Linked DNA regions of Homo sapiens: regions 2, 3, 4, 5 and 6 are each reported to be linked to region 1. The links are microRNA targets in miRTarBase. Many come from high-throughput screens and were not tested one by one. Region 1 holds a microRNA gene; each other region holds the end of a gene's coding sequence.

Region 1 (4,104 bases):
TGGGCTCCCTGGTGGAGGTGGACAGCAGCTGCTGGAGAGCCCGGAGGGCAGCCAGGACCGTGTCAGACGGCAGGAGTCGGGCGGGGCCACTCCAGGCACCGGCCAGCAGGGCAGAGGTACCAGGGAGGGCCCTCGGGCTGCGGGCGTGAGGTCAGAGCCCAGGGTGAGGAGGAAGCATCTCCAGCCAGGTGCGCTCTCGGCCCCCGCCGGGGCTGCGAGGCTGGGGGCGCTGCCGCTGCGAGGGCTTCCAGAGGAGCCGGCGCTACCTCCCCGCGCGCCCGGCCACGTGCGCGACGGGATGCGCAGACAGCCGGGGACGCAGACTGGCGGCGTGTGTCACCTCGAGGCCGCGGGACAAGCGCAGGTCGCCTCCCGCACTCCCACACCCCCAGGAACCCTGCTCGGGGCCGGCGGGTGACCTTCCTAGGCACTGCTGGGGGCGGAGCCAGGAAACGGCTCGCCCCGCCATTGGCTGGGGCGCCGGATTTCTTTAAAAACTCCGGCTTCCATTGGCTCGTGCAGTCCCTCCTCGTTCTGCCCGAGGCGCCACGGCCGCCACCCGCGCGGGCACTGCGCCTGCGCGGAGTGAGAGCGTGAGCGCGGAGAGCGGACCGACGCGACACGCCGTGCGCCTCCGCGGCTGCGCTACGAAAACGAGTCCCGGAGCGGCCCCGCGCCCGCCGCACCCGGCCCTCGCCCGCCCGAAGACAGGCGCCAAGCTGCCCCGCCGTCTCCCCAGCTAGCGCCCGGCCGCCGCCGCCTCGCGGGCCCCGGGCGGAAGGGGGCGGGGTCCCGATTCGCCCCGCCCCCGCGGAGGGATACGCGGCGCCGCGGCCCAAAACCCCCGGGCGAGGCGGCCGGGGCGGGTGAGGCGCTCCGCCTGCTGCGCGTCTACGCGGTCCCCGCGGGCCTTCCGGGCCCACTGCGCCGCGCGGACCGCCTCGGGCTCGGACGGCCGGTGTCCCCGGCGCGCCGCTCGCCCGGATCGGCCGCGGCTTCGGCGCCTGGGGCTCGGGGCTCCGGGGAGGCCGTCGCCCGCGATGCTGCTCTCCAAGTTCGGCTCCCTGGCGCACCTCTGCGGGCCCGGCGGCGTGGACCACCTCCCGGTGAAGATCCTGCAGCCAGGTACGCGCGGGGCCGGCGGGGCCGGGGCCGGGGCCAGGGCGGGGACCGGGGGCGCCCCGGGCCGCACCAACCCCGCCCGCGCCTCCCTGCAGCCAAGGCGGACAAGGAGAGCTTCGAGAAGGCGTACCAGGTGGGCGCCGTGCTGGGTAGCGGCGGCTTCGGCACGGTCTACGCGGGTAGCCGCATCGCCGACGGGCTCCCGGTGAGTCGGACCGCCGGGCGGGCCCGGGTTTCTCGCGCGCCTTGCGCCTCGCTTGGCCCGGCCTGACCCCCGCGTCTCCGCAGGTGGCTGTGAAGCACGTGGTGAAGGAGCGGGTGACCGAGTGGGGCAGCCTGGTAAGTTGGGGCACGGGCGGCGGCGGCGGCGGGGGGCGGGCGCGGGGCTTTTGCTGACCGCCGTGTCCCCCAGGGCGGCGCGACCGTGCCCCTGGAGGTGGTGCTGCTGCGCAAGGTGGGCGCGGCGGGCGGCGCGCGCGGCGTCATCCGCCTGCTGGACTGGTTCGAGCGGCCCGACGGCTTCCTGCTGGTGCTGGAGCGGCCCGAGCCGGCGCAGGACCTCTTCGACTTTATCACGGAGCGCGGCGCCCTGGACGAGCCGCTGGCGCGCCGCTTCTTCGCGCAGGTGCTGGCCGCCGTGCGCCACTGCCACAGCTGCGGGGTCGTGCACCGCGACATTAAGGACGAAAATCTGCTTGTGGACCTGCGCTCCGGAGAGCTCAAGCTCATCGACTTCGGTTCGGGTGCGCTGCTCAAGGACACGGTCTACACCGACTTCGACGGTGAGCGCGGGCGCGGGGCAGGGAACGTTCCGGGGGCCTTGCCGGCGGGTTAACGCCTGCAGGGGCGGCACATGGAGGGGCTGATGACTGTTGGGCGGCCGCGCGCCCTGGGTCTGCTCTCGTGGGGAGCAGAGGCCCACGCGCTACCCTGGGGAGGGCTGAGCGAGGGATCAAGAGCGGGATCGTGCTGGGTGGGGGCTAGGGGCGCGCTCAATATTGCTTCCTCCATCGCGTTGGGGGGTACGGGGCCTCTTGCCCCGGTGTGGGAGGCGCGTGACATCCTTCCGGCCCGAGAGACCCCCGGCTGGGGGCGGTAGCGGAGGAGTCTCCGTGCGTGACGCAGGGCGCAGCCGGGCTGGGTCTGCGCCGGGAGCCTGGAGGCCCCCGCGGCGCGGTTGGAGTGGCGGGGCCTCCCCTGCGTGGGGGCGGGAGCTGCGTGCGTGCGGAGCGCGGGGGCGCGGCGGCAGAAATCCCCGCATTGCGGAGCTTGGGGAAGCCGGGGCTCCCCGCCCGCCCCTCCCTCCTCCCTCCCTCTCTCCCCTCCCCCCGTTCCCGCAGGCAGGCGCGCCGGGCGGTAAGGGACCCGCGCTGTCCCCCCCCCACCCAGGTAGCCTCACAGCGCATCTGTTTGTTGTGAAAGCCGAGCTCTTACTCATGTGACCTGCTCCTCCCCCGCGGCCGGCGGAGGGGGACGGCCGGCCCCTCCCCCAGCCCCCCCATCGCCTGCCGGGGTTTTTCCAGGGTGATGACGAGCAGGATTTTGAGGCCTGGCTCTGCTTCCTGTTACTGAGGCCAGGGAGTTAACCAGCAGGGACCTCGCCGTCTGTTGAGCGGCTCTGCCTCTGTGGTGGGCGTGCTAAGCCCTGTGTCCCCTTAGGCACCCGAGTGTACAGCCCCCCGGAGTGGATCCGCTACCACCGCTACCACGGGCGCTCGGCCACCGTGTGGTCGCTGGGCGTGCTTCTCTACGATATGGTGTGTGGGGACATCCCCTTCGAGCAGGACGAGGAGATCCTCCGAGGCCGCCTGCTCTTCCGGAGGAGGGTCTCTCCAGGTGCGTGGTGGCTCGAGGCGGGGGTGGGGGCCTCGCCCTGCTTGGGCCCTCCCTGACCTCTCCGCTCCGCACAGAGTGCCAGCAGCTGATCCGGTGGTGCCTGTCCCTGCGGCCCTCAGAGCGGCCGTCGCTGGATCAGATTGCGGCCCATCCCTGGATGCTGGGGGCTGACGGGGGCGTCCCGGAGAGCTGTGACCTGCGGCTGTGCACCCTCGACCCTGATGACGTGGCCAGCACCACGTCCAGCAGCGAGAGCTTGTGAGGAGCTGCACCTGACTGGGAGCTAGGGGACCACCTGCCTTGGCCAGACCTGGGACGCCCCCAGACCCTGACTTTCTCCTGCGTGGGCCGTCTCCTCCTGCGGAAGCAGTGACCTCTGACCCCTGGTGACCTTCGCTTTGAGTGCCTTTTGAACGCTGGTCCCGCGGGACTTGGTTTTCTCAAGCTCTGTCTGTCCAAAGACGCTCCGGTCGAGGTCCCGCCTGCCCTGGGTGGATACTTGAACCCCAGACGCCCCTCTGTGCTGCTGTGTCCGGAGGCGGCCTTCCCATCTGCCTGCCCACCCGGAGCTCTTTCCGCCGGCGCAGGGTCCCAAGCCCACCTCCCGCCCTCAGTCCTGCGGTGTGCGTCTGGGCACGTCCTGCACACACAATGCAAGTCCTGGCCTCCGCGCCCGCCCGCCCACGCGAGCCGTACCCGCCGCCAACTCTGTTATTTATGGTGTGACCCCCTGGAGGTGCCCTCGGCCCACCGGGGCTATTTATTGTTTAATTTATTTGTTGAGGTTATTTCCTCTGAGCAGTCTGCCTCTCCCAAGCCCCAGGGGACAGTGGGGAGGCAGGGGAGGGGGTGGCTGTGGTCCAGGGACCCCAGGCCCTGATTCCTGTGCCTGGCGTCTGTCCCGGCCCCGCCTGTCAGAAGATGAACATGTATAGTGGCTAACTTAAGGGGAGTGGGTGACCCTGACACTTCCAGGCACTGTGCCCAGGGTTTGGGTTTTAAATTATTGACTTTGTACAGTCTGCTTGTGGGCTCTGAAAGCTGGGGTGGGGCCAGAGCCTGAGCGTTTAATTTATTCAGTACCTGTGTTTGTGTGAATGCGGTGTGTGCAGGCATCGCAGATGGGGGTTCTTTCAGTTCAAAAGT
Region 2 (4,104 bases), not on the chromosome of region 1:
TTACTTCCCATCTCTACCCTATCCCCGCAGTACATAGTGAGTGTTTGGGCAAAGGCTGGGGCTAGGGTTAGCAAAGAGGCTGTATGAAAAGCTTCAGTCTTAAATCCTAGGATTTTAAGATTTAGTCTCTGGAGGAATATTTTAATCCACATAAAAGAAACATTTCTTCTATTAGGAGGCAGTTGTCATGGAGAGTATCAGTTCTGGTGAAAAGACTTGAATTGTTGGTCTGGTTCTCTTGAGCAAGTTGTTTAAAACCTCTGAGCCTCAGTTTTATCTGTAGAATGGTGATGCATTTCCTGCACACAAAGTAAATAATGTTATGATACATTTCCTGCACACAAAGTAAATAATGTTATGATAAAAATGCTCAGTTTTATCTGTAGATGGTGAGGCAATTTCTACATACAAAGTAAATAATGTTATGATAAAAATTCTTTGCAAACTACAAAATACCGTATAGATCATGAGGTTCAAATGTGACTAACAGGCACAGGGTTATGCCAGCAAAAATGCTGAAAGAACTGGGAGAGTATGTCTCTTTCTCATCAATCTGTGTTCTCCTTTAAAGAAACAACACATGTCTGTGTGTGTGTGTGCATAAGACTCCCTCAATTCTTAGCATTGAAAGACCAATATTTTGTTCCTAGAATGGAAAGACCTCCACCTTTCAAGCCACCACCACCTCCCATCAAGTACACTTGCATTCAAGAGCCCAACGAAAGTGATCTGCCTTATCATGAGATGGAGACCCTCTAGTCTCGTGAGACTTTGCCCCATGGCAGAACTCTGCTGGAATCCTATTGAGAAGGTAGACATTGTGCTTTATTAATATAGTCGCTCTTCAGCCATGCCTTTGCTGCAGCTGAAATGGAAGTCAGAAGTGAGTGACCTGTTTTCCCAGCAACTCACCCTCTTCCATCTCCAAACGCCTGAAGCTTAACCAAGAGTGAGAGGATATGTCATGTTCACACTCAATGCAATTCGTAGTGGTTTTCTTGCTTATGTAAGAAGTACATATTAGTCTGCCATCTTTAAAAAAAAATACAGTATTTTCATTTAAATTCTCTGATGGAGGGACAACAATGGTTTCAACTGTATGCCCATGCCTGATCCTCTTATTTGAACATCTATCAACATTGTAAACTCTTTGCCAAAATCCTGGGGCTTTGCTGCATTCCCTAAGATAATTACAGGAAAAAGAAAATGTAAAAGTGCTAACAAGGCTGCCAAGTAATGGAGAAGTATGGTTAGTCTTCATATTGAAATTCTGTTGCTTATTTTCATGGAAGGAAACAGAATACTTTGCACAGGAACCACATTTTCAATCCTCCTTCACTGTCTTCCTACCATGTTCAGCCCAGACTCCTGCCACATGGACCAGGATGAAGAGGGATCAAAGAGATAATTAGCCAAAAACCCAGTAGCCTAGAAGATACAAAACTCCACTGGCCTCTAAAATTATATTAGCCAAGAGTGGTTTCATTTGAGTGCCTTCGTGTGTATGTCCATCAAACTGGAACCAAACTGTTTTGTAAGTAAACAGGCAGCCTAAGCCCAACCCTACTTTCTAATTCCAGTTATTCTCTTTTTCATCTGGGGATTTACCTGTTCATTTAATCTGCCTGTTTTGATCTGTTTTGAAAAAGATAAAGAGCCTCAAATCAGACCAGCACTGATTAATTAACCCTGCTCCTACCAATCTTTTTTAAAGCAGTTGAAGCAGAATGTATAGGTGTCAGAGAAGAAACCTAGTCAGCCAGACGTGCTCTGTATTCAGCAATAGTTTGTGAATGAATAAATTACTAATCCTCCTTGTCGCTTGAAACCTTCCCACACTCCCTGCTCCAGGAGGGAAAAACAGATGTTGTTGACAGATAGAGTGATAGGCAAATTCTGTGTGGACTTTAGTCCCAAAAGGAAACTTTAGTTCACTTGCAGTATGCTTATCCTTGACTGCACATGAGAATGCCTTGTGCAGAGTTATTTGGAGATTATGTCTTTTTCTTAAACACCATGGCTGTCACACTTCAGTTCAATTAAATCAGAATGTCTGAGGAGTGAGACACAGGCATCAACACTCTCAAATGATTCACATGTTCAGCCAAAGTTGAGAACCATCGAGCCTGTGGAAGTTCTTTCTCATGGCTCAGAATCTTAGGTAGGTGCTTAACTCTTGTGGTGGCCAGCCTCCAAGATGAGCCCCAGTGTTCTTGCCTCCTACTATTCACATCTTTATGTGGTCCCCTCCAATGCTGAATACAGATGATTTGTGTAACCTGAGGCCAGGATTAAGGGGAGGCAATCAATGCACCTAGGGAAAAAATTTAAGGAGGTATTCACACTCAGGGTCATGCACTTGCACAATGTTGAGAATGAGTACCACTCTCACCATTGGTATAGCCAAAAAAGCTTGGAAGTGACCAAGGCTAGGTCACAAAATACACTGTGGCTTCTTCTTTGATCTCTCTTTGACCATACTGACACTGGGAAAAGCCCATTCCCATGCCATGAAGACACCAAGGCAGCCCTATTGAGAAATCTACCTGTCGTGGCCGGGCGCAGTGGCTCACGCCTGTAATCCCAGCACTTTGGGAGGCCGAGGTGGGTGGATCACGAGGTCAGGAGATCGAGACCATCCTGGCTAACACAGTGAAACCCCGTCTCTACTAAAAATACAAAAAATTAGCCGGGTGTGGTGTCGGGCACCTGTAGTCCCAGCTACTCAGGAGGCTGAGGCAGGAGAAGGGTGGGAACCCGGGAGGCAGAGCTTGCAGTGAGCCGAGATTGTGCCACTGCACACTCCAATCTGGGTGAAAGACCGAGACTCCGCCTCAAAAAAAAAAAAAAAAGAAAGAAAGAAAGAAAGAAAGAAATCTACCTGTCAAGGAACTAAGGTATTTTGCTAACAAGCACCAACTTGCCAGCCATGTAAGGGAGCCATCTTGGAAGCAGATCCTCCAGCCTCCAGTCAAGTCTTCAGATAATTGCAACTTCAGTTGATCTTTTGACCAAGACCTCAAGAGAGCCAGAACTACCCAGCTAAGCCTTTTACTAAATTTCTGAACTTCTAACACTATTAGATAATAAGTGCTTATTGTTTAACACCATTAATTTTGAGTATAATTTGTTACATAGCGACAGATAACTATACAGCTCAACAACTAGAAAAATAAACTGTTTACCTGCCTTAATTATTTATCTTTAGTTCCTTATTAGTTCTCAAGAAACAAATGCTAGCTTCATATGTATGGCTGTTGCTTTGCTTCATGTGTATGGCTATTTGTATTTAACAAGACTTAATCATCAGTAATTTGTATACAAAGCATTGTGGTTTTATTTTACTGTTTTACTATAATATATGAATACAAGCAGAAAGTGGGGGTAGGGAGTGGCAGAGTTAGGAGTAGAGAGTGGCAGAGTTGGAGGTATTTGGATTGTTTCACTAAAGGGAGAGACAGTTTTACAGTATAACATAAATTCATGTAATTTATCAATCTATCAGATGACAGGTGTCTCTCTGTGTTTTTATATTAGCTCTTCTTTGAAGTACACTCTTTTAGTATCGTAATTAAGTTCTGGTCAGCATTTGCACATTCATTACCACTTGAATAGAGTGAGCGGTTGCTTATCAATGGAGGGATCTTCAGTGAGTAGTTCAGAGGAACTTTTCACAAACCTGCAAATTAGAGGGGCTCCAGTTGCCTTTTAGTTAGTACTGTGAGCTTGACCACCCTTATTTGACTAAAATGACAGTTTCATTTGAGCCTTAAATTGTGTGCGAGTAAATTCATAGAGTCTGACTCAACCAGCAACTCCTGTCTCTGTTAGTGAATTTAGCTCTGTCTCATAGGAGAAATAGCAATACTAGATCCTAATCCCTAAAGTTTCATTTTCACTGAGAAAAAGCCATATGTACGCATGTTTGTCACTCATTTCCAAAGCACTATGTGTTAGTTAACATTGTTATTCATATGTTCGTTTCCTTACCCACCTGCACCAGGAGAACTCCTCAGCTTGATAACATGATTTGTTTTGCAATGGAATATCATGGGCACGACTAACCCAAGGCTTGAAAAGTACTTCTATGATTGGATTCACTCT
Region 3 (4,104 bases), not on the chromosome of region 1:
AATGAGAACTGATATCAGCTCAGTAGGCACCGGAGGGCGGGTCCAATCGACAGCCCGGAGAAGCAGCGCCTCAGCTGGGAGCTCCGTGGGCACCGTCTGCTGGCGCAGGAGACGCGAAGGCCTGGACTGCAAATACAAGAGAGAGTTCACCGCGCCCAGAACAACAGGAGCTCCTCCGAAAGCCCCGCCCCGCCCCGCTCACAGCCATGAGCTACCACATGATTTCACACGACTTAGGTGATGCATTTGGTTTTAGTTTTTTGTAAGAAGAATTTTTGCAACTTTCAATACATTTGACCTTTCAGACAGATGTCCGATTAGTGCATGTTTCTGTGGACAGACTTAAGGACTCAGTACATGGCTAGCATTCCCAGCAGGAGACAGTGCATCCTTGGGGTCAAGTGGTCTCTCATCCTCCAGGATCGCGCTCCGCACCCAAGCTGACTGTGCAGCAGCGGCCGGCCCGTCAGCAACGGCCTCTGCCCCAGCGGCTCCAACTTAACTGTCCCCATCTCACCTTCTCTTCAGGTGCAGAACTTAGCCACTGTGAACAAAGCGGAAACCAATCACTGTTCACCAATCAGCTAAGCTCTGCACCTTGTTAGAGAGGTCATCGCTGGGCATAAATAAAGGGACGGTGACCGGTGAGCATCTTCCTCAGCTGGTGGCTTCTTTTGTTTCCAAAGAAGAGCTACGAGATGCACCTGTTCTCCAATCTGCAGTGAGCGCGACCACGGTTTCTGGAGGAGCAGCCAAGGTCGTGGTTGCGTGGTAATCCCTGGCAATGTGATTTTAATCTTAAGTCACAAATCAGCATGCCAGGAACCCAAGCAGCCAGAGCACCTGAGAGCAGCGCCACCCCGTGCTGTCTGCACACACTGGGCTTCCGCGGAAGGACGCCGGCGACACTGCCGCCTTCACGCCTGTTATGCTAGCAAACAGGTGGAGTTTCTGTTTGTTGTTCGTTTAGTTGGCATCCTAGAGGTATAATTTCTTGAATCAAAGGGACTCCAGAGATGACCATAAAAATGCCAGTGCAGCTTTGGAACTGAAGAAAAATGCAGGGACCGGCCATGCGACACACACAATTGCTAAAGGCAGCTGTCCTTGCTATTAGTTTACTGCCTCTAACCCTTGGGGACAAGATCCCTTCTCTCCAGGCAGATTCTAGCTGCCCTGGGAAGGCTTTGGGGACTCTCAAGTCAGGAGGTCCCCCTGCTGGAAGGGGCCCTGGGACAATCCCGGCCACTGTTCCTCACGGGGACTGGTTGGGGGGCAGGCTTGCAACCCCTGGATGCATCTGGAGGGGTGGGGACAGGATCGAAGATGCTGGGGAGGGGGAAAAGGGAGACTTGTGACCAAGATGACTCCTTTGCCTGCCTGGGCAAAAATTCCCCATAAAGAGTGGCGAGGGGTGTGCCCTGTGGTGCTGCTCCAAAACCTGCACCAAAGGGAATGATGAAAGGACTAGCTGGCCTTGTAGTTTCACACACTTTAACACGTACGCCACGAAATAACAAAACGAAAGAGAAACACCATTTACACTGATTACTATTATGAGGCCGGCAGTGAGGTAAGTGCACAGTCTGTGTGCCGCCAGCCCGTCCTGGAGGGGAGCCGCGTCAAGTCTGCAGCAGGCGTTTCGCTACGAGACGCTCAGTCCCGTTTCCCTTTCCTGGCACACATGGTTCCTGACTCTTCTGGAAGAATATGATCATGCTTCTGAAAAACTTTTTATTTCTTTTCATTATTAGAGTTCTTTCAGATAAATAAGCTACTTAAACACGTTACACAGAAATGGTTTTCATAAGCACAAAACATTAGAAGAAAACTCAATGTTCAAAACTGAGTGAAGAATATCAACACCAAATATTCAATATCCATGAAAAATTATAGAGAAGCTATAACACGAAAAATGCTTCAGATTTGATAAAGTTTTTTTAAAGATACAAAATTAGACATCCCCTATTAATATCATATAAAACACTGAAGAAAAACGGAGCAGACACAGAAATAATGATGATTGTTAGAGAAAAAAAATCTCACAGCTATCCTAACAAAACCTTGTGTACTACCGCTAGGTTGCTTTAATAGTGTAGAAACCCATACTGAGCAACTAACTGCTAGGAAGTAAATCTAACAGGTTAATTCCAGGCACAATTAACAGAGGAAGTGATTTAAATAATCTAGGACTCCAATAGAAGCCAGGGGAGAAATTCCGCTCCAACACAACAAAGCAAAAAGTAGGACCTGCCCTCAAGACACAGGGTCATGGAGGCCATATGCCACGTGTGCTGTGTGCGCCGCGGGTGCTGTGTGGTGCGTGCACTGTGTGTGCCACATGTGCTCTGTGTGGTGCGTGCGGTGTGTGCTGTGTGTGCCGCAGGTGCTCTGTGTGGTGCACGCGCTGTGTGTGGTGTGTGTGCTGCATGCAGTGTGCGCGCTACGTGTGGTGCATGTGCTGTGTGTGCTCTGTGTTGTGCATGCGCTGTGTGTGGTGTGTGTGCCGCGTGTACTCTGCGTGGTGTGTGTGCTGTGGGTGCTCCAGGTGCTCTGTGTGGTGTGTGTGCTGCGTGTGCCGCGTGTGCTCTGTGTGGTGCGTGCGCTGTTTGGTGTGTATGCTGCATGTGCCGTGTGTGCTCTGCGTGGTGCGTGCGCTGTGTGTGCTGTGTGTGCCGCGTGTGCTCTGTGTGGTGCGTGCGCTGTGTGGTGTGTGCTGTGCGTGCTCTGTGTGGTGCGTCCTCTGGTGTGTGTGTGCTGCATGCAGTGTGTGTGCTACGTGTGGTGCATGTGCTGTGTGTGCTGCGTGTGCCTGGAGAGCCTCCTGCCAGCCGATGACCAGGCGTGGACAGCCCAAGGAACCTCCAATTCACACATGGCTAGAAGAAAACATCTGCTTGCAGAAGCTAGGCTTTGGAGTCACACGGCCGCTTAAACTCCTGTATCAGCCGTGACCCTGAAGACTGGACCAGCGCTTCTGCCAGGCTTCCCATTCCATCTCTAAACCTACTCAAGATGTTCCCCCACAATTTTTGTTTCAACAGATTATAAAACCTGAAGTGGCCAAAATAGTGCCAAGGAGTGCCGCTGTGCCTCCAGGTGGACAGCCTCTGCTTCCCGGTGACTGCCACAGCCAGGCAAGGTGCTCCAGGGACCCGGGGCTCCCATACCAGCCCAGCACCCACTTGGCCAGTTACTCTCCAGGCCCTGGGCCAGGGAGCCGACTATTGATGCTGCGGGTAGTCTTGGCTAACTATTCGGCTTACTGATTTAGTTGGCTCCTAAAAGGAGTATCTGGTTAGAACTAAATGACAGAAAGGAAAGGGAGAGAATCACCTCGTTAAAATAACATTTCGGCCACCACCTGGGCTGAGGACCTATCCATCTGCTCCTTGGTCCGCTCGAAGCACCTACGGGCGAGCTGCTGCTGTCTGGCGTCCTCACTCACCATCAGCTCCCCGTAGAGGTACACACCCATGGCCTGCAGGGCACAGAGGCCAAAGGGCATCAGGCGAAGGTGTGGGTACCCACACACACGCACACATGAGCTCAGTCTGTGCTTGTTCCACACACACTTGCTGGTCTAGAAATTGCAAAGACCCCAGAGAAGACAGAGGCCGTGGGCTGACTGTGCTTTTGGAAGCTGCAGTCTGCAATCCCTGTCTCCTCCTTGTACTCAAAACCCCAAGGAATCCTCAGCTCCCAATTCTCTACACAGACTCTGACGATTTCACTGGTGACAGAACGATGAGCAGGCATTCCCACCATGATGGCCGTGTCAGGAACGCTCTGAACAGACAGAGATGGTTCCCAGAATTACCACGCGGAGAGCCTGTGTGGCATTACAGACACGGGACTCCTGCCCCGCAAAGTGTGTCCCTAGGAGTAGCTGGTCTGAGCTCATCCGGGAAGTCCTTCACCTGCCAGGGAAGCAAAGAGCACAGCAGGCAGCAGCCGCGGCAGAGACACATCACGATGCCCGCAGAGACGCCCACCCCGCCTGCGCCCTTTCCTCCACAGCCCTGCACCGTAGCCCGCACCGGCTCTGCTGCTTGGGAACAATGCCGCAAACACTCACATCTGCATTTTTCCTGTATTTTTAAA
Region 4 (4,104 bases), not on the chromosome of region 1:
CAGCCTCCGAAAGGCAGCCATTCCCTTTTCTCAGTGTCCTGCTAAACCTGGAGCCGGGTCGCCCCAGCATCTTCCAGTGGCAGATGGGGAGGAGCAGCACCCACCGCGAAGGTGTCCACGGCCAAGGTCGGGCGCCCGGGCCGCCCAGGCACTGCGGCGGGGACGAGCGGCCAGGAGGCAGCTCAGCGTGGAACTGTAGCCCCGCCGCCCCCGCCCCCCCCTGCCTGGGCTTTTTAGATAAAATCCAGGACTTCATGGACATTTCCCGCATGGGACCGTTTCAGAGTCATTTGCTCATCCCACGAGTTTTTACTGCGCATCTACAATGGGGTGCACAGTGTCCCCTCGGCACTGGGGAGAGGCAGGGAACAGGTGGAGAAGTCTCCCTTTTTCCTGGAGCTTAGACTTCAGAGGAGAGAAGAAGAAGATGAGTAAGCAACTAAGCAAACAAGATAATTTTAGACAGTGATGTGTTCTGTGAAGAAAAGAAATGGGAAGAATGTGACGGAGAGGACTGTGAGGAACCTACTTTCCACTGGGATGCAGGGAGGCCCCTCTGCCGAGGGGATGTAGGTTTAACAAAATTAATGCTAAAATTCTATATTTTCAATGTCAACAATATTTTGTGGGAAACATTGATACCATTTAAAAAGATCTGATTATTTAGAATCTGTGGCAGTTTTTTTTGTCGTTGTTGTTACTGTGGTTGTTTGTTGTTTTTATTGTTTTTAGATTAGGCAACAGTTTAAAAAATCTGTTCAACAGGGGTTGTGGAAGAATGTGCCGTTTGGGATAGAGCCTAGGGAGGAAAACAAATGTTGTTCTCCTGAAGAGCAAGGAAGGGCTAATGCAGACAGAAGATGATGCTAATAAAATATCATTAAGGCTTATTTCGTTACAGCTATTATGAAACCAGATTTTTTTTCTTTTAACTTTTTTGAGATGGAGTCTCACTCTGTTGCCCAGCGGGGAGTACAGTAGCGCTGTCTCAGCTCACTACAGCCTCTGTCTCCCAGGTTCAAGTGATTTTCCTGCCTCAGCCTCCCGAGTAGCTGGGACTACAGGTGCACACCACCACACCCGGCTAATTTTTGTATTTTTAGTACAGACAGGGTTTCACCATGTTGGCCAGGCTGGTCTCGAACTCCTGACCTCAAGTGATCCACCTGCCTCAGCCTCCCACAGTACTGGGATTATAGATGTGAGCCAACGTGCCTGGCCGAAACTGGTTTATTGAATGAACTAAGTCCAGAAAGCGAGGGCTTCATTTTTCTCTAACCATTGCCTTACAACAAAGTTCTGTTGGATCTCCTCCCATCATCACTCCTGAATCTTGGGCAGATACCATAAATTTTAGTGACAAATCTCACTTTAGTCATTGCACCTCTATTTAAGGGATTAAAATGTCCAGGCCAGTCCAATTTAACAGCAATCTCACACCTCATTCAAAAATCTGCTTGGCCTTCCTTGCAGTGAAATGACGAAGGCATATAGTCAGTTTCTTTACTCTTCCTCCATTGTCTCTGTCTTCTCTATATTCTAGATGTCCCTATGCCATTGCAAGGGAAGAGGGTATTACACAAAGAGGAGCAGATCTTCCTGTAGTTAACTATTGAATAAGGCAGACAGGCCAGCATGATCCTGCCAGCTGCTATGGCAGAGTCCAAATGCTGGCTTTTTCATAGGGCACATCTGTGAGTTATTGGAGGGCCTTGAGTGTACCCCACATTGCACAGTTCCATGATGCAGGGCCACATTATCTGGCTGACCTCTTGCAGCAACCTCCACCCCAAACCCCTCTTCTGCCTAACCCCGTGTCCTCTTACTGCTATAGTTTCTTTGCACAACAGGCTACCCTGTTGGCTGATATCCCGTCATGACAATGCAAGCCCAGCTACTCTTCCATAGTCAAAGCCATGTGAAGAAATTCACATCCTTTTACCATGTCAATAATGGGAGGGCAGGTTGCTATCAGTGCTTCTCTTCTCTCATCCTGCCATTTTGGGTGCTCAAGCCAACCTTTCACCTCCTGAATTCCCCAGGGGGGAAGAACTCATCTATTCATTCAACAAATATTCATCAAGCACTTGTATTTGCCAAACACTATTTACCAGTCTCTGTGTTCCCAGTGCCCACCCTCGGACTCCAGCAAACACTCATCAAGCTCTTCCAAGAATTCTCAAGCCACACCACATCTGCTGCACTGAACCTGTGTGCTCCTGTTACTCTGCAAGCTTTCAGTCTTGGAGTGGGATGCCAGGCTACCTTCTACCATGCTGAGTCCCTCACACTTGTCTGCAAGAAATTCAAAGCAATCTCCCTATGGCCTAGAACCTCCGCTTAATGACTCTTTAATCACGCTTTTGACTCTAGTCTTCTAGAGATGGATAATACGGACTGGGAGTCATTGGTCTCTTTCTGCTCTTTTGATAAGTCCAGACTGGCTGTGTCTAGTATCATGTTGGTGCAGTTACTGTCTTTCGTCAGCTTTGAGCCTTTAGCCAGAATTCTAAGACAACCAGAAAAGTCCCATTCAATATCCAGCTGCAAATAAATTTGGCCGAGTTTTCTTGGAAAGCAGGTGGATCCACGTCTTTCACCTCAACAGCTTATGATTAAGTCCATATATCCCTTTACATACATACACTATCAAGTCATGAGTCCTCATTGGTTAATTACATATTTGTGTAGCAGGATAAAAAATTAAATAAGCTATTACACATATGTGAAACAAAAGACTTTTTTATATGCCGTAGCTGATCTAATTTTTTCCCCAAGCCCCAGACTTGAAGAGAATGATGACACTGACCCAAAGACCAATATGATTCACAGGGCACTCCGAGGACTGGTGCATATGATGCTGAAGTTGACTGTTCCCTTGCTGCCATGAAGCCATATAAACTCTTGCTCACAACAGAATCCATTTGGGAAAGCAGAGTGGAGAGGAGCTGAAAAACTGAGCATTTACTCAAAAGAGACTGTTTCAATTTGAAACATAATGATTAAACCAGAAGAGACTGGGCTGTCTCTAACTGGCAGGCTAACCTCACCGCCTAGCTCAGTTCCCCAGATGAAACATTGTTTTTGTTAAGTCTTTCCTGAAGGCATGAGGATAATGGAGGCACCTCCAGACAGTTACTTACGACTGTACTATTCACCATCATCCAAGTAAATAATGGTTTCTTAAGTTGAATTTCCTAAATTTTTTTAAGATTTCACATCATTGTTTTCAGTGACTAGTGTTAATTTCATATTAAAAGCGGCTCTAATGTTAGCCCAAAAGAGCCCACGTTTGCTTTTCTCCTTGGGCCACTGCAAATAAGTCCGCTGCGTCATGAGAGCCTTCAGCTTGTGGTACTTGTTGGGAATGCTGTTCTGTGGAATGGGTTCCAGTAAGATGAGGATTAAGTTATTAGATCCTTCATGAAAGAGATTGTGATGGGCAAAATAGAGTTCGTAATGGCACCACTCACTCTGGACAAAGTTGGGAGACAAAACAAAGATGGACTTGTAACTCTTCTCAATGCAGTTGATGATATTTTCCACAATGCTCTTGCCAGGGACAAAGTTTCTCTCATGAAGACAAATCTGTATATCTTCTTTTTCTAGGTAAGGTACCAATTCACTTTTCACCCAGGCAGAATCATGTTCACTATATGAAATAAAAGCATGAAACTGGAGGTTTCTTTGGAGTTCTTCTAAGGGTATGTTCCTGGCCCTGCGCCGAGTCTGGGTCCACTGGCACACCATCCTGAGATACCAGGGCAGATCCAAGTAGATGCAGAGGGAGGTCACAGTCACAGCCAACACCAGCATGGTGGCACCGATGGTGACGATCAGCAGAGTTATGTTGCAGGATAATTCAGACATGTGAAAGTCCTTTAGTGGGCTTCCTCTATAACTTTCTGGGTAGTCACACTTATAAGAATCAGGCCAGCCCTCTAACACTTCACTTGATACTTGGTCTATATTTTTGACAAATTCTCTTAGCTCACAGGTACATTGGAATGGATTGTCCCCTGCTTTTATTGACCTCATCTTCTGGCAGCTCTGGAAGAAATCAGCCGATGGGTGGGAAACTGAATTGTGATCAATGATCAATAC
Region 5 (4,000 bases), not on the chromosome of region 1:
ACCCAGGCCAGAGTGCAATGGCACGAACTTGGCTCACTGCAACCTCCGCCTCCCAGGTTCAAGCGATTCTCCCACCTTGGCCTCCCAAGTAGCGGGGATTACAGGCACCAGCCACCATGCCCGGGTAATTTCTGTATTTTTTTTAGTAGAGATGGGGTTTCACCATGTTGGTCAGGCTGGTCTGGAACTCCTGACCTCAGGTGATCCACTCGTCTCGGCCTCCCAAAGTGCTGGGATTACAGGTGTGAGCCACCGCGCCCGGCCTAAACTCATTTCTTGAATGTACTCCTATATCAGGGTATGGAGTCCTTGAAACTCATTTAATGAAATGTTTACTCTGTGCAGAGAATACTGGGTAGGTATCTAGGTTCAAAATATATTTCATATTTTAAGGATGTTATCATCTAAGACACAGGAAACTATATATGTGTGGTCTATAAAACCATATATAGCGTTACTAAGAATAAAACTTTGAGGGAAACAAAGACATGAAGGCCAGTTTCTACCAACCTTCCACTTTGACCAGGGAAACCAGGAGACTGCACATAGAGGCCTATTTGACTGTGTTCATCAACAGAAATGAACAGATTGCAAGATAAGCAAAACAGGCTCTAGAAAGAAGCAGCCAATGAACAGCTAATTTATAATTAAAAGGAAGAAAAGCAGCTGCACCTTGGGAGCTCGGAATTTAGTCACTACCAAGACCCAGGGCCACTGCTCAGAGACAAAAGGTAAACACGCTCATTGTAGTCAAGATGTATCGGAATCACAGACTTGGAATCTTAGAGCTGAAAGGGGCTTGAGAGCCCACCCAGACCTGCTCACGCTGTAGGAAGGCGGAAACTGAGGCTCAGGGAAATGAAATGGCTTGCCAAAGATTAAGGCTAGAAACGTCCAGCCAAGGGCTCTTTCACAACTCCTATCCCTGAAATATCCCATAACGGCCAGATAGGTCATGGGGTATTAACCAACAAAGAGATCCAGCATAACTGCTTCTTGAAATACAAATCACTCAGACTCCCAGGTTCCATCAGGAAATAGCAAAACATGAGAGGGAAAGGACTGGTAATGCCATGTTACCAGTCAGAGGTTCCATCAGAAAAGAACCACTAGGAATGATGTAGAAAGAGAGGATTGTGAAAGCGGTTTGAGCAATTAGAGGGGCTGGTGAAAGTCTCGGTTCGGCTGTTTCTTCTTCACCAGACCACAGGCCAGGCGGTTGGAAAGGATGGTGAGGGAGAGCAAGTACGACTGAGACCTGCAAGCCACAAGCTGGGACCTGCACCTGTCTCTCATCAGAGCCCGTGCTGGTCTCTCATCCCCAAACCTTCATCCTTGTGGCTGCAGACCAAGAAGCTGGTTCTCATACCCGGCCCAGGGTCTGGAAAAGCCAAAGGCAGAGTTCTGCGGGAGTGGGAGGAGCCGTGGGCCCAGCGGCTGCCCACACCACAAGTGCAGGAGATCCATGGTAACGTGCACGTGATGGAACAGGGCCTGACCTACATCCACTTCCAGTGAATACACATGGCTGTTGCTCTACTTCCACTTCCAAACCTCATGCAAATCTCTCTCGTGGCCAACCCTCACCAGAGAAACAAACAAGGAAGGGAATTCTGGGAACACAGTTCAGTTTAGCCAAGTTCACGACACTGCAGAAACCACAACATGCCATCAAAATATTAAACTAACTAGAATTCTTTCCGGGAGTATTGAATTTGCCTATTGTTCTTCTGCCATACTTCTCCGCTTCCACCCAGTAATAAGTAGCCTATCACCTACTCAGGACCCCAGTCTAAGTGAACCCCATGTTTTGTCTAACTTCTACTTTAGAAGTAGACACAGTTGGCTGGAGAGCTGGCTGACTGCGTGGTTTGTTTGTGCTGCACTAGGTCTGCCATCCTGCCCTGTGCCAGCCACTAACAGCTGCAGCAGTGGAAAGGCTCGGCCCTCGCAGGCTTGAACTGCCACCCACTCTGTGCTTTCATGTGTCACCTGTATTAAGTGCAGTGAGGATAATGGCACCTAAGCTATTTTTGTAGCTCTGTAAACAGCCCTTCATTCCTCGAAGCTACAAACATATCCCTGTGTTCAGAACCAGGTTCTGTATACTCCAGAAGAAAGACAATGATGGTGATGTCTTAAATATACCACTTTTTGTCAATCTAGGTGAAAGAAATATGAATATTCATTGTATTATTCTTTTGAATTTGAAAATGTAAAATTAATTAATTTTTTTTAATTAGCTGGATTTGGTGGCACACACCTGTAATCCCAGCTACTCAGGAGTCTGAGGCGTGAGGATCCCCGGAGCCCGGGAGTTTGAGGAGTCAGTGTGCTATGATTGCGCCACTGCACTCCAGCCTGAGCAACAGCACAAGACCCTGTCTCAAACCAAGATTAGAATCAGATCAAGTTTAGCCAAGATACATTAAATTAAGCGCATCAATTTTAATCTTGTGAATCTACTGAAGGCTCTTTCTGGTATCTGAAAACACACCTCCCGACGCTTGCAGGAACTTAGGGAACAGGGTACAGGCCTGCATGCCGTCCTGGCCCCAGCGACTCCCTTCAGCTCTGACTTTTAGTCTCAAGGTGTCTGCCTAGGTCTGCTCCTCACATTCCACTCTTTGCTTCTCCAGTCCTTGCTTCCATTAGAACACCTATGATGTGTAAAGTACGACACTAAGCACTTTTGTTGTTACTCAAATAACTTCCTTTCCTAAACTCCCAGAGAAATTCAGCAGCTTTTTGAGCTTTTTTCTTTTCAGAAATGAAGGCCTGAGGCTATACGGCCATATTTGTATCCCTGGCACAATATTGGACACATCAAATGGGTTCAAGAAATGTCTGTGGAATGAGACATCTCTGCAGTCAAAGAAAGCTAAACTATGTCTGCATCAAGGAAACCGGTTATCAGTGGAGATGAATCTGATGAGGGTGTGGAAAGGAAGGCTTCAGCTTCTGATGACGACTAAGGGACACCTAACCTGACAGTCAACAAAATGCCAGTGTTCCACCTGGGCAGGAAGACGCGCCCCAGATAAGGGCTTGGTGTGACGGAAACAGTCAGGGTAGAAACAGGAACAATACAGAGACCTAGATTCAATTAGTTTTTCAAGTTGACCACACATAAACCAGACAGCCTACTGAAAAGTTCATGAGGGCGTTGAGAACACAGAGCTTCGTAAAATATTTTCCCCTTGTCTCCATATTTTTATTCCGGTACCTGGACTGGACTATATACTCTCAATTAAAAAAAAAAAAAAACTAAATAAAAATAATTCTCAATGCAGAGTTCTTCAAAGAATTCCTAATAATTCACACGTTCCAGCTTCAGTTATCACCGAGAACTGGTTAGGTTCCTTCCACACCGGGAAACTGCATCAAGGAAAAGAGCTGGGCAAAGTCAGATTTTCATGCCAGCCGGACTCCTTCGCACCCACTTTCAGGGAGCCTCCCGCCAGCCTCCAGACCTGGTCAGATGATATGACCTTAGCTCCACACGTCCTCAGGGTGTCGGTGTCTGGGGCTCCCAGCCCCAGGCAGGCCGGGCAGCAGCTACAGCCTGAGCTCGCGGTCGGGCTTCATGCTGAAGGGCTCCAGCCGCTCGCCCTCGGGCAGCATGCTGTTGAGCCTGTCCAGCAGGGGCACAGTCTGGTCGATGCCCATCTGTATGCGGCGGAGGATGGCGGACATCTCGTTCACTTTCTGGATCTGCTCGGCATACTTGGCGTATCTTTTCTGGCGCTCCTGCATGAAGCTGAACAGAGTTTCTACAGACAGATCCATCTGTGGATGGGAAAGAGAAGTACATTATACCTTGTTTAATCAAGTCCTCTCCGCAGGGCCGGGTGTCCAGCCTGTGAGGGACACAGTCCCGCAGATCCAGTGGAAGCTGACAAGTTTTACAGGAAGCACCCAGGGCTAAAAAGCCCTTCAGGGACACAGCTTTATCAACTGTTGTGCCAGAACCACCTTTAGAAGAGAACTGAGAGGGGAC
Region 6 (4,104 bases), not on the chromosome of region 1:
GGTTTTCCACAGATCACAAAGGCATCAAGGAAGAGGCTCACGGTAAGCCTGGCCTACTCGGAGAGCCACCAGATCCGCGTGTCCCAGCAGGACTTCCGGCTCTTCCGCACCCTCTTCCTCCTCATGGTCTCCTTCTTCATCATGTGGAGCCCCATCATCATCACCATCCTCCTCATCCTGATCCAGAACTTCAAGCAAGACCTGGTCATCTGGCCGTCCCTCTTCTTCTGGGTGGTGGCCTTCACATTTGCTAATTCAGCCCTAAACCCCATCCTCTACAACATGACACTGTGCAGGAATGAGTGGAAGAAAATTTTTTGCTGCTTCTGGTTCCCAGAAAAGGGAGCCATTTTAACAGACACATCTGTCAAAAGAAATGACTTGTCGATTATTTCTGGCTAATTTTTCTTTATAGCCGAGTTTCTCACACCTGGCGAGCTGTGGCATGCTTTTAAACAGAGTTCATTTCCAGTACCCTCCATCAGTGCACCCTGCTTTAAGAAAATGAACCTATGCAAATAGACATCCACAGCGTCGGTAAATTAAGGGGTGATCACCAAGTTTCATAATATTTTCCCTTTATAAAAGGATTTGTTGGCCAGGTGCAGTGGTTCATGCCTGTAATCCCAGCAGTTTGGGAGGCTGAGGTGGGTGGATCACCTGAGGTCAGGAGTTCGAGACCAACCTGACCAACATGGTGAGACCCCCGTCTCTACTAAAAATAAAAAAAAAAATTAGCTGGGAGTGGTGGTGGGCACCTGTAATCCTAGCTACTTGGGAGGCTGAACCAGGAGAATCTCTTGAACCTGGGAGGCAGAGGTTGCAGTGAGCCGAGATCGTGCCATTGCACTCCAACCAGGGCAACAAGAGTGAAACTCCATCTTAAAAAAAAAAAAAAAAAGATTTGTTATGGGTTCCTTTTAAATGTGAACTTTTTTAGTGTGTTTGTAATATGATCAAATTTAATAAATATTTATTTATGACTGTTCAGCAATCACATCTCCTACATATAAAGCCACACCATAGTGGTTTCTGAAGTGAGTCTTAGAACCGATTCAGGACGCAGATTTCTCCTCTGAAGGGTCACAGCCACCCTGTGCCCTACCTTGGACTCGCAAGGGTTTAGGATCATTCGTTGATGTCAAGAGCAATTGAAGAATTTCTAAGGAACAGTTAAAGATGACTTACTTTTTTTTTTTTTTCATTTATAAAAATGCTATGGACCCTTTTAAGAGAATCGGCATCATGAAATGAGAGAGAAAGTAGGATGGCTCTGAAATGTTTGAGAGTGAGTTCAGGAGTGGTTTACTCCTGACGCATCCAGCAGAGATGCCTCTTAAGCACCAGCCATGGCAGACAGTGTCCTTTGTGCTAGGAATACAGTGGTGAACCAGACAGCCATGGCCCTCTCTCAGGGAACTTACCTTCGAGTCAGGGGCAGAAAAACTAAATAAAAGTCAATAAACTATATCTATATACAGATACCTATATATTTGAGATGAGGGTCTTGCTCCAATGCCCAGGCTGGAGTGCAACGGCACAATCACGGCTCCCTGAAGCCTCAAATGCCTTGGCTCAAGCAATCCTCCCGCCTCAGCCTCCCAAGTAGCTGGGATTACAGGCGTGAGCCGCCACGCCTGGCTACAAGTCAATAAATAGTATAGCATCACAGAGCGAATAAGCACTGTGAAGAAAATGGGACGGGGGCTATGGTAGTGATGGGAATTTAGATCAGATGGGGAGGGGCCTAAGGAGACCTTTCTGAGGAGTGACAAATTGGATCAAAAGGTAAGCGACAAGAAAGGGCCACCTGTGTGAATGGGGGAAGGGACACAGAAGAGATGTTAGTGCAAGGAGGCTGACACGCTTGAAGGGAGAGTGGCGTAAGCCGACTATTGATGGAGCCTCCTCTGCACTAGGCACTGCCTTTAATGCTGAGATGAGGGGTACCCGGCTGGGGCCTGTCAGTTGAGGCCAGAGAAATTGCAGGGTTAGATCACATAGGGCCTAGGAGTTTATTCTGTTCTCCAAGCCCCTGGAGGTTGGCAACTGGAGGCTGACGTGACCTGATGAATGTGTGCAAAGATTACCCTGGCTGCTGGGCAGGGAATAGACTCTGAGGAGCATGAGTGAAAATGGAGACCAGTTGGGCAGCTGCTGAAGTGTGACATGGGGATGGGACCTTGGAGGTGAGTGGCATTAGGGAGGGATTGTGAGAAATGACTTGTAAATATACCTTGGGAAGGTAAAACAAAGATGATTTATTGATGGGAAGGATGGAATTGATAGAATGTGAGGGAAAGGGAGAACTCAAGGGGAATACTCTGATTTTTTAGCCTGTCATTGGTTGGATGGTGAAGCAGGCAACAAAAATGGGGGGGCCTGGGCAAAGATTAGGGGGGGGGGAGCCAAGAGTTTCATTTGGAGCTCATCAGTTTGAAATCTCAGTGAGACTTCCAAATTGAATAGGCAGTTGGATGCAGAGATGTGGAGCTTGGGCCTGGAGATGCACATTGTTTGGAGATATAAATGGTGTTTATAGACCTATGGTTTTATAATACATCCCTTGGAGAGATAGAGAGAAACCAGAGCCAAAGACCGAACCCAGGGTCACTCCACCACTTGGAGGCTGGGCCAGTGGCTGGAATGCACAGCAGCACGGGGCCTGGTGTATAGTAGGTGTTCAACAAATCTTTGTTGCTGAGGAAATCAGCACCAGCAGTAGTGACTGCTTATGCAGTTTCTGGAGCAGCTTGCTTCTGAAGTCAGATTCATGGATATCACAAGCTCGAAGACAAACGAACAGAGATGTTTTGCTCACTTTAGTTAATAGATTTGATCAATTAAACCTGTTTTTGGAAGTGATGTGTGGCTATCTTATTGAAGCGGCATTGCTGTCTGGGGTAAATAACCGGGGTTTGTCATCTTGCGCCAAGAGGATTAAGGACACGGACATATGTGGGTGGGTTAAGGAACAGAATGTTTAATAGGCAGAAGAAAGGAGAGAGGAGAGCAGCTCTCTCTCTCGTGAGACAGAGGCATCTGAAAAGGGAAAAGTGGTGGACCACAGCGTATTTTATAGGCAGGCTTGAGGAGGTGGTGTCTGATTTACATAGGGCTCACAGATTGGTTTGACCAGGTGTGACGTTTACGTAGTGCACGAGAAAGGCTGGCCACCCCACCCAAATCTGATTATGCAAATGGACTTTCCACTTGGCCATCTTGTCTTCTCCTTACTGCACTCATAGCTGGCAAAAAGAGAAGACGGAGCCGCCATTTTGAACATGCTTAGTCTTAGGTAGTACATTCCAATGGACACAACTGCTGGCATTCACCCATGCAAGCTTCCAACTTGCTTGTCTATGTCTGCAGCACGATTTTACAGCTGCTTTTTGTTAGAAAAGGATTTAGGGGCTGCTTTTCATTAAAAGGAAAATCTTACCAAGGACTTCCATACCCTCACTATCTGCCCGAGTAATTTCTTTTTAACTCCTATATCATTATGGTTCTCTGAGGTTGTCAAACTGAAGCTGCGGAGCAAGGCTCTGACAGCCTGTGGTTCCGTGAGAGAGGAAGGCAAAGCTCTCCCATGCACATCACCTGTCTCCTCTGTCTTTGGTGGAGAACACTAGCATGGGGCCCCCGGGAGCCTCCCACGGTCCCTGGATATTCCAACACCCAGGCGGAGATCTGTGACCCTTTCCTCACTCCCAGTGCATTTCATAGACATCAGCCTGGCATCACCGGTTTCACAGCTCCCCAGAGCTCTAAGGGACATTGCCTAATTGAATCCTCACTGCAGCCCATCAGGCAAGGACTATTTTCCCTTATCTCCCAAGAAAAGAGTGAGGCTCAGATAAGCCTTGTAACCAGCCCCAAATCCACAGCTAATATATATCTGAAGCAGATTTGCACTTACACCAAGACCCTCTGGTACCAAAGCCTTGCTGCTTTTTTCAAGATGAGAAATGGAGGCCCCTGGGAACGCCTGGAAAACTGAGGCAAGTGGCCTTGCACCCATACACTAGGGTTCCCACGTGCTGCTAATGATGCAGGATGCTGGTGCTCTGTCCCAGCCCCTGCAACTCACCCCCTACCCAGCCC

The links. Region 1 holds the annotated microRNA hsa-miR-6821-3p (UGACCUCUCCGCUCCGCACAG, at 3,012-3,032, shown strand). A microRNA usually pairs through its seed, bases 2 to 8, with sites in the 3' UTR of a target mRNA and lowers its output. Matches are read on the target gene's strand: a 7mer-m8 pairs with bases 2 to 8, a 7mer-A1 pairs with bases 2 to 7 and ends in A, and an 8mer does both.
Region 2: miRTarBase lists CD96 as a target of hsa-miR-6821-3p. Seed matches in the 3' UTR shown: 7mer-A1 at 2,618-2,624.
Region 3: the mRNA of AOPEP is a reported target of hsa-miR-6821-3p. The part of its 3' UTR that is shown has no 7-base or 8-base seed match.
Region 4: the mRNA of TLR6 is a reported target of hsa-miR-6821-3p. Seed matches in the 3' UTR shown: 8mer at 1,766-1,773 and 7mer-A1 at 1,149-1,155.
Region 5: miRTarBase lists BORCS5 as a target of hsa-miR-6821-3p. Seed matches in the 3' UTR shown: 7mer-A1 at 192-198.
Region 6: the mRNA of FFAR4 is a reported target of hsa-miR-6821-3p. Seed matches in the 3' UTR shown: 7mer-A1 at 663-669.

The regions. Positions count from the first base shown.
Region 1 is chr22:49,959,908-49,964,011 of GRCh38, forward strand. MIR6821 (microRNA 6821) reads left to right here and starts at 2,959; the gene lies at 2,959-3,032. It overlaps PIM3 (Pim-3 proto-oncogene, serine/threonine kinase), which reads left to right and starts at 865. Exons shown (of 6, transcript NM_001001852.4): 1 at 865-1,125; 2 at 1,218-1,327; 3 at 1,411-1,461; 4 at 1,535-1,904; 5 at 2,782-2,958; 6 at 3,033-4,104. The coding sequence starts at 1,041. The coding sequence ends at 3,220. RefSeq lists silencers at 38-317, 358-997, 1,048-1,197, 1,338-1,387, 2,028-2,077 and 1 more.
Region 2 is chr3:111,649,048-111,653,151 of GRCh38, forward strand. CD96 (CD96 molecule) reads left to right here. Exons shown (of 14, transcript NM_005816.5): 14 at 651-3,325. The coding sequence ends at 759. Among named protein-coding and RNA genes, the nearest start is that of PLCXD2, 24 kb to the right of the region's middle.
Region 3 is chr9:95,081,952-95,086,055 of GRCh38, reverse strand. It overlaps AOPEP (aminopeptidase O (putative)), which reads right to left. Exons shown (of 17, transcript NM_001193329.3): 16 at 3,337-3,481. The coding sequence ends at 3,341. It overlaps MIR23B (microRNA 23b), which reads right to left and starts at 848; the gene lies at 752-848. MIR27B (microRNA 27b) reads right to left here and starts at 611; the gene lies at 515-611. It overlaps MIR3074 (microRNA 3074), which reads left to right; the gene lies at 1-42. It also overlaps MIR24-1.
Region 4 is chr4:38,823,876-38,827,979 of GRCh38, forward strand. It overlaps TLR6 (toll like receptor 6), which reads right to left. Exons shown (of 2, transcript NM_006068.5): 2 at 1-4,104. The coding sequence ends at 3,208. Among named protein-coding and RNA genes, the nearest start is that of TLR1, 21 kb to the left of the region's middle. RefSeq lists an enhancer at 1-31.
Region 5 is chr12:12,465,335-12,469,334 of GRCh38, reverse strand. It overlaps BORCS5 (BLOC-1 related complex subunit 5), which reads right to left. Exons shown (of 4, transcript NM_058169.6): 4 at 1-3,789. The coding sequence ends at 3,559. Among named protein-coding and RNA genes, the nearest start is that of DUSP16, 96 kb to the left of the region's middle.
Region 6 is chr10:93,587,208-93,591,311 of GRCh38, forward strand. It overlaps FFAR4 (free fatty acid receptor 4), which reads left to right. Exons shown (of 3, transcript NM_001195755.2): 3 at 13-2,865. The coding sequence ends at 402. Among named protein-coding and RNA genes, the nearest start is that of RBP4, 12 kb to the right of the region's middle.